Linked DNA regions of Homo sapiens: region 2 is linked to region 1. A link means that fine-mapping ties the variant in region 1 to the expression of a gene that starts in the linked region. Tissue or cell type: esophagus mucosa. Region 1 holds a variant in brackets; the other region holds the start of a gene. All regions are shown on one strand. Distances are between the middles of the regions.

The links. PIP is the estimated chance that this variant, and not a neighbour inherited with it, causes the effect.
Region 2: XPR1 starts here. The variant in region 1 is fine-mapped to the expression of XPR1 in esophagus mucosa (GTEx, PIP 0.96).

The regions. Positions count from the first base shown.
Region 1 is chr1:181,255,108-181,257,791 of GRCh38, reverse strand. No RefSeq gene overlaps it. Among named protein-coding and RNA genes, the nearest start is that of LINC01699, 20 kb to the right of the region's middle. The variant T/C (reference allele first, on the strand shown) is at 1,520.
Region 2 is chr1:180,630,687-180,633,370 of GRCh38, reverse strand. XPR1 (xenotropic and polytropic retrovirus receptor 1) reads right to left here and starts at 1,349. Exons shown (of 15, transcript NM_004736.4): 1 at 1,101-1,349. The coding sequence starts at 1,169. RefSeq lists enhancers at 484-984, 985-1,485 and a silencer at 610-989.

The sequences.
Region 1 (2,684 bases):
TGGTGCAGGGGGGAGGTGCACATCCCCTTGGTTGAGTCCTGTGTTTTGTGAATTTCGTTAACTTAATACCACTGTATGCATGGCATGAGCTCAGTGTCATTAACAAGACACAATCTTCAAGGAACTTGGGGTACAGAGGGGGAGATGGATGTGACAGAAGATAACTACAATACAGAGAATCAGCAGTGGATGTGCAGGAGTGCAGGAAAAAGCCAAGGGTCCACTTTGAGGGGATAGAGCAGACTTCTTGGAGGAGCAGCCTCTCGGTCTCCTAGCAGCATCACAGCAGGTGACTACTCCCTCCTCCTTGAAACACTTTCTTCACTTAATTCTCCTCCTCCATCCACCCTTCCTTACCTCCCTTGCTGGCGCCTCGTCCTCCACACCTTCGCATGTGGGAATGCCCCAGTCCTCAATCCTCACACCTCTTCTGTCGCTCTTACTCCCTTGAGGAGTTCACACATGTCTTGGCTTTAAACACCACTTGCAATCAGAAACCACCAAATTTGTATTTCTAGCTCTGACCTGTTCCTCTAACCACAGCTCAACATCTCCCCTTCAAGTTCTAATGGTAATCTTTAACTAAATCTAAACTCGACATCTCCCCTTTAAGGTCTAATGGGAATCTTTAACTAAATATGAGCAAAACTGAACACTTGAGTTCCACCCTAATCTCTCAGAAAAACTGCATCTCCCTCAGTCTTCCCATTTCAGGCCAAATCTCTGGAGTTCTTGAGTTCTCTTTTCCTCTCATGCCAACATCCAACCAGTCAGCAAAGTTTGTGTTATCTCCACCTTAAAACTAAGACCCTAATTTATCACCTCTCACCAACTCCATTGCTCTCACCTTGGTCTGAGCCACCAGCTTCTCCCTCTGAGACTTTTGCATCAGCCTCCTAATCAATCTCCTTGCTCCATCTTGCCCTTAAAATCAGAACTATCCTTTAAAATTGTAAGCCAGATGATGTTCCTCATGGCTCAAAAGCTCCCAGTGCTTTCCTGTGTCACTCAGAATAAAATCTAAAGTTTCTCTCATCACCTAGAAAAACATTGGTGTAATCTGGGCCTCTGCCTCTCTGGCCCTGATTCCTATCATTTCTCCACCAGCTCAGTCAGCTCTGGCCATGGCCGCCTTGTTGCTGTTCCTTGAATGTGCCAAGAACCACTTTCCCACTGCTAAGTTCTCCTTTCAATCTGAACCATCTTCCTTCCCCACTGCAATACCTGCCTGACTTTTTTTTTTTTTTTGACAGGGTCTCATTCTGTTGCCCAGACTGGAGTGCCACGGTGTGATCTCGGCTCACTGAAACCTCCACCTCCTGGGTTCAAGCAATTCTCTGTGGATGGCAGCTTCAGCTCCTACGTGACAGGAGCAATTCTCCCACCTCAGTCTCTCCAGTAGCTGGGACTATAGGCACATGCCACCACACCCCGCCAATTTTTGTATTTTTTGGTAGCAAGTAGGGATGGAGTTTCACCGTGTTGGCCAGGCTGGTCTCAAACTCCTGACCTCAGGTGA[T/C]CCACCTGCCTTGGCCTCCCAAAGTGCTGGGATGACAGGCATGACCCACCACACCCAGCACCTGCTTGACTTTCTCCCTCGCTTCAAATGTCATGTCCTCAGAGGGGGCCTCTGTAACACAAATCCTTTGACCTATTATATTTGAGGGTCCCAGCAAGAAGTGGCTAGAACATTCAGCAATGATCTTTGGAGAGATCTTTCCATGAATATTCTACTCAAGGAGGAAACCAAGAAGAGATTTTAAGGCCCCTCAAAACTAGCCACACTAGGAAGCCAATACCACGGTTAGTCCTGCAAGAGGAGAAACTGGTGTTACCAGAGCCCCTCTGAGAGCCAGAGCCATGGAAGTGAGAGTGCTTGATGGCGCTGTGGCCTGAGGAAAACAATCATTGCAAAACTGTGGCCAAGCAGAGAGCAACAGAGCAAGCACCTGGCTCTCTTCCCACCCTCGAGTCTCCTGATGATGCCTCCAAATACAACTGGAAATCAGAGGGCAGAGAGCCCTGATGATGCAATCCATGGAGTTCAGGCTCAAGAGCACAGAGTGGAGCAGAGCAGAGCTATAAGAACAGATCTGGAGCAAGCAGAGATTACTCAGCACATCAATATCCCTGGTTTCCCCTCTTCCAACATGAGTCATCACATTCCTCCTTCTGCCTGCTGTAATGACTGGTGATAGTCCAAAGGATGAGGACTCAGTGAGCCTGGATCACAGAGTGAGAAAGATGCAGAATAGAGCCCACCTGCCCACCCCACAATTAACATGGAGCATGAACAAAAAAAATCAGCCCCTGAGATTTGGGGGTTGTTTGTTACTGCAGTTTCATCTAGCTTCTCCTGACTGATGCACTTCCTCTATCATCTTAACATGCCTTGTTTTCTTCATCAGACTTATCACCACCTGATAAACTTTCAGACTTGTTAATTATCTGTCTCCTTCCTCTAAAATGTAAACTATGGGGACAGGACTTTGTTTGTTTCACTACTAATTCTCTGCATCTAGAACACGACCTGGAAAATAGTGGATGCGGTTCTTTGTTTATCAGGGGAACCCGCCCCCAATATTTCAACGTAGGTTCTATTTTCCATAAGTGTCAGCCAACTGAGAAATAAAGAGAGACAGTATAAAGAGAGGAATTTTACAGCTGGGCCGCCAGGGGTGACA
Region 2 (2,684 bases), 620 kb after region 1:
ATTCTTTGTTCCTGCACACAAAACAGATGTGAATTCCTGGAGGTTACAGATAAGTCTGTCTTTCTCTATCCAGGAGCTGAATTGCCAGCTACTGAGAATAACCTATTGCAATGCTTAAAGCCTCTTAGGTATCTTGTCTTCTGAACATATAAATGGGTTCATTATCTTTATTTTTCCCTTTATTAATGTAAGGTTCCTTATTATCTATTAAATACCTTCCAGCAGTGTTAGCACAGAAATTGGGAGGGAATGGGGAGCATGATTTCTGTAATACACAGGTAAGGTATATTGTTTACAATATACTAATTTTCTCCCCAGCTAGCAAAAACTTAGCAGAAAATAAAAAAATGTTAATAATTCTCTTCTCTCCTTTCTCTTCCCTCCATTCCAAAACAAGAGGCAAAAACAAAGATGTTATTACTCTGTAGACTTCATGCAATCAGTAAAAAGAGTCTTATTATCAAAGCAGAATAGTTGATTACAACGTGTTTACAAAAACTATAACCACTACATATGTGATACACACTTAAGTCAAGTTTCAACCCCGTTACAAAGCCTTTGTCAACAGTGGGCAAGTGGGAAAAAGCCGAAGGGCTCTTTGGAATGAAGGAAATCACTGGAGGGGCTTCTCTTGGAAGACAAGGATTCCTTGGTGAGAGGTGTAGAGAGAGAAACAAGACCTAACCTTGGCGAGGGGGCGCTCGCCCAGGGTGGGGACGAGAGGTCAGGGCGAGTGGGGAGAAGGGGATTAGCGCGGAACAGCCGCGACCCGGGGCTGCCCTCGCACCGTGACTCCCCCACCTGCAGCTCACCCTCCCACCGTTCCCCGGCCCCGGCCCCGGCCCGGGCAGCGCCTTTCCTCCCGGCCCTCCGCCTGCATATCCGTTACCCCGGCGGCAGCGGGGCTGCGGGGGAGGGGAAGGACAGCGGAGCCGGGAGGCGGCCGGCCGCGGCGGGGATGCCGCAGTGGCTCCCCGCGGCAGCGGGTCAAAGTCTGCCCGGGCACAGGGAGCCAGCTGAAGCGGAAGGCGGCGGTGGACGTCAGGACTGGCGAGATGGTGGCCCCTCCGAGTCCTCCCACACCCCAGCCGTGCCGGTACCTCATACTGGATGTATTGCTTCCTCCACTCGGGAGTGATGTGCGCGGAGAGGTGCTCGGCGAACTTCATCCTGCCGTTTCCCCCTCACTCCCACTCGGGTCCAGCAGCTACAGGCGGCGGCGGCAACAGCGACTCCGACTCCTCCCCACATGGGCCCCGGCGCGGCGCGGCGCTGCGCTTCTCTCCTCCTCCGCCGCCGCCGAGGTCTCTTCAGAGCAGCCCGCCCGCCATCTTCCTCCTCCTCTCCATAGCCCCGCCCCTCCCCGCCCTCTGGACGTCATCGCCATGGTAACCGCCTACACCGCCCTGACGAAGGGGGTGCTGTAAGGGGTGGGGCTTGGGTACGCTTCTTAAGACTCCGCCCCTTGTGGGCCGTACGTGCTGGAGGCACCTCCCTGGATCTCTTCAGTCTGGCTCCTGTTGGCCTACAGCTGCTTTCTACCGCCTGTCTGGGAAGCAGCAGTGTTGTTACTGCAGTTAATATTAATACTGTAGCAACAATAATCCACACAAGACGTTTATATTTACAAAGAACTGTGCAAATATTTTTCCATTTTGATATTTATGCTTCATAAAACCTTTAAGAAATGGATCAGCACTAATCCAAACTAAGAAGCTAAAACAGTTCAGGACTAAATGTATTTAAAGGAACAGTATTTTACACACTCTAGGTGCTCAATAAGTGCTTATTGAATTTAATTAAAGACATCAATGCCAAAAAGTGCATGCTGCTTCTGAATTTCAATGTAATTGTCTAGTCCAGGGGCTATCAGAAAAGCCAATAAAAACACCAAATGAGGGTACCGACCGCACTTGTAAACTGAGCTTCCTGGGGTTGGGGGTGAGGGTTGGGAGGGAAACCAACGTTGAGAGGAAAGAGAACCCCGTAGAAGTACAGCTCTAAGCCCACCCCAGTAAAACCGGAAACAGGCCCAGCACCCAGGCTGAAGTGTCCCTGGGGAACATGGGCAGAGATCACTCACAGAGCTCTGTACTACATTGAGTGTGGGAGTGATTGTCTTGGAAGTCCCAATTCAGGACAGAAACCCAGGTCCTACCCTGGGTGGAGGAGACCTAATAATAATTTATTGAGCACTCACTGTTCCTGTACCAAGTGCTATTCTAAACCTCTTACATGTACTTTGTCCCTTGATTCTAACATTTTTTTTTTTGGTCTCGCTTTGTTGCCCAGGCTGGAGTGCAGTCACACCATCATGGTTCACTGCAGCCTTACCTCACATAGGTTTGTGAGCCATCCTCCCACCTCAGCCCCCTGAGTAGCTGGGACTACAGGCACATGCCATTATGCCAAACTAATTTTTTTGTTTATTTTTGGGAGAGATGTGGGTCTTGCTATGTTGCCCAGGCTGGTCTTGAGCTCCTGAGCTAAAACAGTCCTCCCACCTAGGCCTCCTAAAGTGCTGGAATTACAGGCATGAGCCACCTTGCTCAGCCTAACCCTCACAATTTTGATGAGATTTCAAGATTTACTAGGGAACTGCTATGCCTGGAGCAGTGCTCTGAGATATCATTCTCTGCTGTTGTCTTTTTTTCTCCATGTACTTTTTTCCCCTTTCTCTTCCC